2 separate regions of the Homo sapiens genome follow, and region 2 is linked to region 1. The links come from fine-mapping of genetic effects on gene expression. Tissue or cell type: testis. Region 1 holds a variant in brackets; the other region holds the start of a gene. All regions are shown on one strand. Distances are between the middles of the regions.

What was found. PIP is the estimated chance that this variant, and not a neighbour inherited with it, causes the effect.
Region 2: it holds the start of ADARB2, and the variant in region 1 is fine-mapped to the expression of ADARB2 in testis (GTEx, PIP 0.99).

The regions. Positions count from the first base shown.
Region 1 is chr10:1,195,422-1,200,763 of GRCh38, forward strand. ADARB2 (adenosine deaminase RNA specific B2 (inactive)) reads right to left here. Exons shown (of 10, transcript NM_018702.4): 8 at 4,545-4,726. Among named protein-coding and RNA genes, the nearest start is that of LINC00200, 38 kb to the left of the region's middle. The variant T/G (reference allele first, on the strand shown) is at 2,659.
Region 2 is chr10:1,734,346-1,739,687 of GRCh38, forward strand. It overlaps ADARB2 (adenosine deaminase RNA specific B2 (inactive)), which reads right to left and starts at 3,180. Exons shown (of 10, transcript NM_018702.4): 1 at 2,706-3,180. The coding sequence starts at 2,805. RefSeq lists an enhancer at 2,512-3,108 and a silencer at 3,070-3,129.

The DNA of each region.
Region 1 (5,342 bases):
GGGTCTTTAGTCCCTTGTTAAGTTTTATGACTGGCAAACATTTCTCTCTCAGAATGGCAGAGTTTTGCAGGCCTGGGTGGGAGAGCACATCTAGGCAGAGACGACGTTGAAAGGTTTTCATGCCAGAGAAAGCTCAGAGTTTTGACTCCAGGGGTGTGGCTGTGAGCAATGAGGGATGTCCATGGAGAGGCTGATCCTGGTTCAGAAGAATTGGGATGGTGCTATCAGCCTGAGGCTTCTGAATCCATGGAGAGGCTGATCCTGGTTCAGAAGAAGAGGGATGGTGCTCTTAGCCCGAGGCTTCTGAAGGGAGGTATGGCTCACTGCAGCAGGGTGAGGCTTTCTAGCCCCCGAGCCAGCAAAGCACAGTGGGGAGAGTCTGGCATCCTAAGATGATGGTGGGGGCCAGTTGGCTTTTATGGCACCGTCCTAGTCTGTGCTTTTCCCGTTAGCCCTGTGACCACCTTCGTAACCCCACTGAATCGAGGCCCATGTGATTGTTTCAGGTCTGGGGAACCAAACAGCAGCCTGAAACCAGCTGGAATCTTCCCTTGGTGAGAAGGGAGAGGAAGCCCGCTGCAGCCTTTCCAGAGTGCCTCTCTCTCCCGTCCGCTTACCTCACACTCTCAGCCCAACCCTGCCTGTTTCCCAAAACCCTGTGGGAGCCCTTCTCCCAGCTCCATTCCCTCATTCCTCTAGGACTCTGCGCAGTGTCACCGCCACACTGAGAGTGCTCCTGATCCTTTTATTAGGGCTGAGGGTCACTTTTTAATCCTTCTTTTGCCTTTTTTTTTTTTTTTTTTTGACAAAGCACTCATATTTTGTTTGTCCGTCTCCCCTACTGGAATGCAATCACCCTGAGGTATGGATTTTTGACTATTTTGTTCACTGCTCTATTCTCAATGTAGGATTGTGCCCGGCACTTTGTAAATCATCAATACACATTTGCTGAATGATTAAGCAAATGCCTGGATTATGCTGATCAATTTCTCGATGTTGGATACATTTAATGTATTGACAATGGAAGTATTTTCCTGGAGTTAATGATACAATTCTCAGGAGCAATGTAATTAAGTTCGTTGCTTAAATTCTACTGGGAAACAATTCCTTAAGATCATGGTGGAAATTAAATGAAAATTAATTATTATACAAAATATTTTTAAAAGGATTCTCCAGAAAATGAAAACAAAGTTTTTCAATAATTTTATATTTATCATAAGCTATGTGCCATCTAATTTGCCTAGAAAGTTCTGTGCTAATCTATAAAAATGTCTTATTAAGTAGTTCTTTGTTGAATTTAACTTTTTTAGTTTTCATGAAAAGATATTAGGATTTCTTTTCTTTCTTTCTTTTTTCTTTCTGTAGACATGGGGTCTGGCTATGTTGGCCAGGCTGGTCTCAAACTCCTGGCCTCAAGTGATCCTCCCACCTCAGCCTTCCAAAGTGCTCGGATTACAGGCATGAGCCACCACGCTTAGCTAAGACTGCCTTTTAGATTGTTCTAGCAAGATTTATAATTTTTTCCACCAAAAATTCCTGCAAGGGCATGGGAAGATAAATTTCTAGCTCTAGTGACTGTAAGAAACAGCAGGCTGCTAAAATATTTCTGTAATGCTTATGTGTTTATTACTAAACATTTGTAAAAATTTTGTAGGTTACTCCAAAATAGACCTCTGTTTAATGTAAAAATAATATTGCAAATCACTTACCATCTGGATAAAATATTTGCTACTGCTTCACTATGTTATTTTGCAAAATACTCTTAATTATCATTAATTTCAGAAATTTCTCCTGAATTAAAGAGGTCTGATACTCCATAGAATTTTCCTCAACTTAGTGTGACAACATTTTGAAAATCTGGACTCATAAAAAAAATGGACATAAATGGCAACAGAGAGAGACTTTGAATGCCAAAAATAGGTGGCATTGGGAAATTTCAGAAGCTATTAGTATTGGTACACATTTCAGTACATATGTGACTTCACATTTCAGTACGTATCTAACTTCTTTTCTGACAAATGGTTTTGCTGTGAAACATGGATGCCTGAAAGGGCTTCAGACGCCCCAGCTGGCCCTTTTCACACTCCAGGAAATTGTGTGCTGTGGAGGAAGACAGCCCGTGCTCTCCTCTATTTTATCACCAGCACTGCAATGTTCATCACGTGAACATAAACCAAGAGTCTTAAACAAGTCATGGTTCTAACAATCAATTCTCTGGGTCCATCTCTCAGATTTCATGTTCGTTGCCAAGACCTTGAGGTGGGCTGTAAAAATAATCACAGTTTTATCTTCAGTGTGGACTAAGAAATTAATCATTGACAACATATCTGTTTAACATGCTGTTAACACAAACAGCGAATTTATCCTACCCAGATTTCTTTTTTTCTTGATGAAGAGAAATAAAAATTTAGCCTTGATGTTGAAAGCTCAGAGAAGCATATATCCTCAGCTTGGTGGAACAGCCTGTCAAAGTGGCTATTTCATCTCACTTTTTCCTAAAAGGATGATTATTCAAAGCATAGAGTTTTATTAATTACTATCCCCATCATTTTGTTCATCTTACTGAATTCACTGAGAAGGACCAAGGGCAAACTCCTTTAGGCTATCTGTACTCAGGAAATAATGCAACTTTTGCTGAAGGATTCAGCGTTTGAGACA[T/G]CCTCGAAATGGGCTTCTGGTCCTGAAGTTTTGCCATAGATTTAGACTGGAAAGTGCAGAATTTTTCAAGTATATCCTTCAAGAACATTACTATGCATCCCGTGACTGTGTGAGTAAGGGTATCTTTTTCAGCTTGGTTGCTTCTTTTTAACTCAGAGCTGATTTAGCCATATCTAAATTGCTGGGCCTCATTCTGCTAATACATAATCTTCATCTTCTAAGGCAGTTCTGCAAACTGACCTTGAGGGAAGCTTCAAGCAAACTTCATTTGCTTATTTGAGGGTGCTTTTTATTATTATCCCTGTGCAAGATCTCTCTCTCTCTTTCTTTTGGTGCAAGAAATTCTGATGATTTCTTTTCAAAATTTGCATGATTGGTTTTTAAATGTCCATCAGGAACAATGCAGGGACAGCTTAGGGGTTGCATGCAGGCAAGGTACCAAGATTTAGGCTCATTTGCATCTGCAAAATAATGAAAACCAGATTCCCAATAAGCATGTAAATGGAGGCTGAAATATTTAGTCAGGCTGCACCGGCCGTGGTGTGGCAGGTGCCACCTGGGATCGGAAGCAGACAGGTGTCTCTCGGGCTTGGCTATTATCTGTGCCACTCAATGATGTCAGGTGGATCTGAATTTCTCTAATTGCGTTTTCTAAAATTCACTGTGTTCACACTTAGGATTGGACATTCCTGTTTTTATTTATGTTGACATGTTCCCAGATGGACACATGATTGAAAATCAGCACTGGGAGACTGGCTGCTGAGGGTGACATGCCAGTGCCCAGGGAGGGCAAAACCTGCTCCGTTGACGGTGGCTTGGGGAGGGCGTGGTTGCATTTGTACTCCATATTTCCTTGTGCTGCGCAAGCTTAAATAAGCCCTTCAGTAGGTGCTGGACAAAGAGCGGGGATGGCCTAAGGAAAACGCGCAGAAAAAGAGTGCAGGAGCCACTTGGCAAACAGGTGAAAATCCTCTCCTTTCTGGGGCAGAGGTTTTCTCCGTTTCCCCCACATATCTGCCTGATTCTGCCACAGGCAGGCCCTTCAGAGAGCTCTCCCACTCCAGCAAGGGAGGCTGACTCAAAGACCTGGTGTTCTGCAGGCCCAGCATGAGGCTGGCGGTGATTCGGAAACCCACCCCCCCGCTTCCCGCTGTTCCTGTGAAAGGCCAGGAGTCGCCTCCTGTCAGTGTGTCCTTCACAAAACCCTCCCAAGACCACTCCCGGGGCTTTCTAGGGCACCTCGCAGCTGCCAAGGGACTCTTCATCCTTGCAGCTGGCTGTGTGCCAGGCAGCCCGGGCAGGCCCCAGGTAACGTGGGGAAGTAGAGGCTTGGGGAGGCTCGGGTCTCTGAGGACATCTGGGCTGTGGGGAATCCTGGTGCGAAGCCGGCCCAGTACTCGCGGAGTAACCTGGCAGCCTCTGGAGGGTGTGGAGGGCCCGGGGCCCTGGGTTCCGAAGACCCGCTCTGGCCACGTGACCTTGGCGCCCCCCGCCCCTCCTCGCCCACCTGGCTCTTCCTCAGCATCGCCTCCTGTGGGCGGCCAGGTGGGCAGGTGGGCAGGTGGGCGGCCAGGTGGGCAGGTGGGGCCTCTTGGGTGAGCCCAACACTAGTGATTCTGTTTTCAGAACTCCTTCAGACACCGCTGTGAAAACAGCACCATCACACAATCACGAATTCACATCAGGACCTGGCCTATTGCTATATGCAGAGAGATGCTGAAACCTTTCATTTTTTCTTTTTAAAATCGTAGGACTTTGCCCATTAAATCCTAAATTGCCACTAGCCAACATGGATGAAGTCTGCGAGGGATGGCACCGCCGGGCACACCTGTGTCTGGCCTGGTGGTGGGAAGGAGGTGGAGGGCCCCCGGGAAGGGGGTTCTTACCGCTGAGGAGAGGCCGGTTGTGCCGGTAGGAGGCGGGCAGCTGGCCGACACCCTCCATGCGGTGGCTCATGACGCGTGCGAGGTGGCCCGTGTGGTGCAGGCTGCCCACCACGATGCTCTGCAGGTACACGGGCTCCACGAAGTGGGACAGGAGCGCGCCCTGCAGCCCCAGGACGTTCCACCTGTGGGGAGAGCCAGCAGTCAGCGGAGCCCCACCCAGGAGCCCAGGGAGCCTGGTCCTCTCTGTCCGTCTGCGGCCTGGTCCTGAGGACCTGTCAGTCTTCCCATCGTGCGGACCTTGGGGAGCTCCCTGGGAGTGCCCCAGACCCAACCCAGCCATCACTGGGGCTCTGGGGACACTGTTGCCTGGGACTGGGCTCCACAGGCCCATGTGTGCTAACAAATGCTGCTCTCTTTTCTGAAAATGAGTCGTTAGAGTGGAAACTGTTATGTTCTCTGTGGGACTTAGAATTAGATTTTTTTAAAAAGATACTCTGTCCCAAAAGTGAATCTGAATTTTTCTTTATATTAGCTGGGAAATACTATAAATGGAATTTGTTTATTTTAGTTTAGGGAAAAATACTTAGTACTCCCTTTGTCCTTAGCAGTCAAAATGACCTATTGTGTTGAAATTACATTAACAAATGACCTTGTTTTGGTCTGGGCATGATTTTGGTTTCAGAAGCCCAGATTGGAGATGAACAACAAGGCCATTTTGTTTGAAATAAATATAGCTCTGGGTGAATGTTTTTGCTTCCTCAAGCAAAAATGCCAAGAGCACTGACATTTTTTCCCCTT
Region 2 (5,342 bases), 540 kb after region 1:
AGTAACTAAAATATAACTTCTACAGAAAAAAATATCATTTCCAAGACTATGGATTATACTTAATGAAAGTATTGTGTCCTGACCACCCTTCAGTGGTAGCCCCGGCATGCTTTATTTCAGAGCTCACAGATCATTTTGATAAGAAGCATATCATGCCAAAGTCACTCTCAGAGTCACACATAGAAAAGGAGCCAGATGTCACCACACTGGGAAATTAAAGTTATCATGCATCTTCAAAAATGATTCTTGTCCCTTAGACTAGGTAGAAATACGCATCTGACAGGCAACAGGGTCAGCATGTATCTTAATTGTCTTTATTCCCCCATAAGAACAGCCCTTACCTTGTGCTTCTGTCAGTGTCTTCAGTTAGCACCTAATAGAGCCACACTAAATTCCTTAACAGTCTCTCATACACACGTGGATTTTAAATTGTGGCAAGTATAGAGTTTTAATATCAGATAAGCTTAAAATTGAGGTTATTCTATTCATTTATGGTTGTTAAGATTCATGACAATTAGAACATAATTTAAACTCACCATTGTTTTTATAAAATAAAAAATATCAGCATCTGTAATAACTAGGTATCATAGATGAAGTAATCAATTCCCAGGAAAATGCAAATAATTATTTAATGTGTCTCTTAGCTGGTTACTTTACCTTTTAATTTGATCAGTTACATCTACATGGTTAACGTTTCCCCAAAAATTGAATCTTTAGCCGTTTGATTTGACTTTCCTATCAAGATAGCTGCCGGCAGGTGCCCTGGGAAATTCTCCCGCACGCCAGAAATCTCTTCGTAACAGAAATCAGTGTACAAAACCTGAATGCCCTTTCCCGCTTCAATTTTTGGCTATGAAAATTAAGGGACTTGACATATTCAAAATAACCAAGGTATGGAAATATTTGCTATAGGAGTTTTATTTTGAATTGCTAAAGTTAAGTTTATAGCAAATGAAGTCTTTCCCCAGATTTCCTTTTTCCCCCTAAATTGAATACTTTCTAAGCTAGCATGACTGACGCTTCCTGGCAAGGCAAGTGAATTTGGAGAAAGGCAACACTTTCCTCCTGTTTATATTTATAAAATGCATTATTGCGAACTATTACTCCACATTCTTCAACTCTAAATATTTAAATAGACTAATCAAAAAATATTGGGAAATGTGAACATTTCAAGTGTAAAGATGATGCTTCCTTTTTCCTCTTTTAAAAGTCATATTCATTATTCAATCCGGTGACTTTCTCAATATCAATGCCACTTTGTGTTGGCATTATCTTTGGAGGACACTAACAGGTCTGTTTCAAAATGATAATTTCAAACAACAAAGTGAATCGCAAGCGCACACTTAGCAGCTGAGAGGTAAATGAGAACCACAACATCACCTCCCTTCTGAAACCAAAGGCTCCAAAACCTTTTGAGGAAGTTGTGGGGGCCAATCCCTCCCAGTGGTCCTGACGTTCGGTCATAATGAATGACTGTTTGCTATTGACATTTATGCCTGCTGACTGTCTGGATAATTTCTATTATTGGAAGAGGCAATAAAGGACCTGGTGACGGTTCGAGGGCACACAGGAAACGGTCTGGTAGAAACTTATCTTAGGCCAATGCAAAGATGAAAATTCTTCAGGAAAGATGGACAACCCCAAACACACCTAACGTTGCCTCCTGCTTTCAAACAACTGGCAAAGCTGATCAATTCTAGCTGTGTTTTTCCAACCGTTCTTTATACTTCTACCTCACTTAAAAAAAATCAGCACATTTCAAATCATGATTAGAACTGAACTTTCTCCTGCAGGCTCACTAGGAACTGACAATAACACAGGTTCCTCTAGGAGAGAAGGGTCGGCATGAGAAGAATCTTTTAATTCTTCCTGGCATGCACACAGGCTACGATGGCACTGGGGGCATTGCTCTCATATTGGAGCGATTGCTAATTTTGCAAAATCCCCAGTGTGAAAGCCCTCCCTTGCTGTAGCATTGACTAACTTCAGCGCGGCCCAGCCCCAGGAATATCAGTAACAAGGCACAGCTGAGTTTGTCAGTGGCCGCTGTCAGCCGGCTGCTTTTCCTGCTTTCCTGGTTTGCGGTTTTTTTCTACCACTAACAAAATATGATGCTTCTTTCTGTTTTCCTGTATTCATTTCTGCTTATTTCTCCAAGGACGAGCCCTGTGTTCTCTTTACGACCCAATGTTTACAAATCGACGGGCACCACATTGAGTAAAAACTGCCAGCCAATTTGGAGAGGCGATCGCAGGGCTTCGCCTATCCCTTCCTCCGGGACAGTTTGGATGGGAGTAGCTGGCGCGAGGGCTCGTTCCCCCGTTTTTGGGTAATTCCTTTGGCACTGGGAGACGAGATGGCCTCCGGAGGGTGGAAGGCAGTGCCAGCCCGGCCGGCCACTGGGGACTGCGGGGCCCGGAGACGCGCGGGGTCCCCGGGGAGCTCCTCGCCGCCCTCGCCCCACTTCGTCCGGGTCCCTCAAACATGTCGCAGCGTGGCTGCTCACTGTCCCCTCTGGGCAAGAGGAGGCCCCAGACATTTCCACGGGATCTGAACTCCCGAGCGCCCTGCACGGAGCAGCCATCCCGCCAGCACCCCAAAGTGAAGCTGCTCACAACGGACAAGCCCGGAGACCCCATGAGAGGCCGGGGTGGAGAAGCCGGGGGTGAAGGGGGGCAGGGGCCGGCGCGCCACGCGGTCCTTACCTTTCCGCTTGGACCTCCGCCTCCTCCTCCTCTTGGACTTGCATTTGAGTTGACTGCTCAGCCCTCCAGACCCTCTGCCGCTCCCCAGGACCGAGGCCATGGCCGAGACCCAGGCGCGGAGCCCAGAGCCGCCTCCCTCCTGCACCTGCACCTGCCTCCTTCCCGGCAGCCGCCGCCGCCGCTGCTGCGAAGCTTGAGGTTGCAAACCCGGGAGCGGCTCACTTTTCAGGACTGAGCAGGAAAGCGCGCTCCGTCTCTCTGTCTCTCGAATTGTTCTCTATGACTTGCTCCCACTGGGCTGGGGGCCTCGGCTGGGCGCCTGGAGCGAGCTGCTCCCTGGTCAGGGAGGGCGGGGAAGGGCGCGCGGCGTCCTGAGTGCTCCGAGCTTCCCGCGGGCTCTGCCTCCTGCTCTGGGCTCCCAGCGCAGGGAGGCTACTTTTGCGCCTCTGCTAGTTGTTTGGCACCAGCCACTTTGAAGCCAATCACGCAGGGAGCTTGTCTATTTGCTGCAGCAGCGTCTAATTAGATCCAATCACAACTGCTTTCTGGCTCTGACATCAGCAGCAGCACCAGCCGCACCGCCGCCTGGCCGCTTGCAAACTCAGCTCCCGTTTGGACGGTGAAGCTCCCAGGACCGGCGGCTGGAGGGAGGCTGCTCCCGGGGAACAAGGACGCGGCGCGGGTGCGTCTGGGAGAGACCGGGGGAGCCTCCAGGAGGGACCCTGCCCGGGAGGACGAGGCCTCCTGCCGCAGCCTCGCGGACAGCTCAGCTCGCCCTGCTCAGAAAGACACAGGGACGGGTTTTTCCAACCAACAGTTTTTAACTAGTCAATTCATTACCATGCTCCTTGTGTCAAGGGGGGGAAATACCTCTTTCAGAAATGCAGAGACCGCACTTCCTCAGAAACGGACTGAGGTTTGCAATTCCCCAGGAGACAGCGTCCTGAGGGGCATTTATTCCTCAGAGCCTGCATGCTTGTCTGTTTGCCTCTTCTTTCCCCTCTTCATATTCCTTGGCCGTTTCCAATGCAAAAGATAAATCTTGCATAAAGACAGAGGTTTTGGGATCTGAGTCTGATTTTTGCCGTCAGGAATTTCATGTGTTGCTTTATTTAGGGAACAATGACACAAAAGGAAGAGAAAGCTCTCAGCGGAGAGTTTTGTTGCCAAATGTAATATTTGGATGGAAGAAAGTAACATTTACAAAGAGGTGGATTGCACACTGAAATAGTTTTAAGCAATTTTTTTTTCCAGGAATGTCCTATGTTTCAAGATTATACTTATGGAACCCTGGAAGTCTTATGTAAAATATAAAGAGGAATAGAATCTGGTAATCATCATTGCATCTTGTATTTAAATCACATAAGCTTTTAATTACAATAGTCATGTTTTTAAAAAAATCCACTCTAAAATTCATTAGCACACATTAACATGTTGATATAAAAATGGCACACAAATATTTCTGCTATTCATTGCCTCACATGCAACCTTTTCAGCTGCTTATGTGCCTAGAAATTTCCAGATAATTTTTATCATAAGAAAAAAGAATCACTCTGGGGGACATTGGAAATAATTAGGATGATCCTGTGTTGTTATGTGCTGAGCTGATAGATCGTAGCTCAGTTTTCATTGATGAGAGAGAGTAAGACATTTGATTTCAAATCTTAACTCTACTGCTATGACCTCGGGTAAGTTAAACCGTGCCTCAGTTTCCTCATCTGTAAACTGGGGATAACAACGTCACCCACCTCATAAGTTCATTCATACTCGTTGAATCAGTATCAACCAGTATAGACAGGAACTGGAACATGTTAATTACTCTATGATTATTTATTAAATTTTTTCCAGCAAATAATTTGGAAGGAATGAGCGTATGTTGCAGACAAGCCTCAGAAAGACAGGGCTTCTGCGTTTTCCTTTTAGAATGTTGAACCTTCTAGTCCAACTCAGACTGAGGACCACAATCAAACCAACATCCCTCTTCAGGGCTGGCTTCAACAACCCTGTTCCCATGACAGCACAGCTCAGCTCTGCTGATAATTCCCAGCGAGGGTTGAGAAGGCACATAGCTCTCTCACTTCCTCTCTGCAATACCCGAGATATTTGAGTGCTTAAACTATATCGAGAAACACAGCTCTAGGACTCTGCCTGTGAAACTTCTGAGCTTCACACAATGTGCTGCACTAATCCAGAGTTGCCCTATTTCTGTATCTGCAGAAAACCCATCAGGGGGTGGAGTCACCGAAGGAAGGTGCTTCAGAAGAGCTTCACACACACACACAGCCCCCACAAGGTGGTCAGCATTTATTAATGGCCCCAATAGCTCCATCATCACACGGAGCAACCGTGCTGTCTGGGAGACTCGTATACATGAACCCTTGTTTCACTCCAAGGGCAGGTATGGTGGCCGGAAAGTAACGTGTCTGTTAAATGTTCTTCTGATGTTGGTGGAGTGGGGAAACAAAACTGAAAACTGTCTTTGAACACTTCATTTAGACCCTAATTTGAAAGTTACGATCGAAATTTTGGCAAACCTTTTTCTTGAAGTTCCTCCAATTGGTTCTTTTTTGTATAATTTATGAAAATGCTGTTTTCACAGATACTTGCTGTTTTCTGTATTTTATTTATTTTGCATAA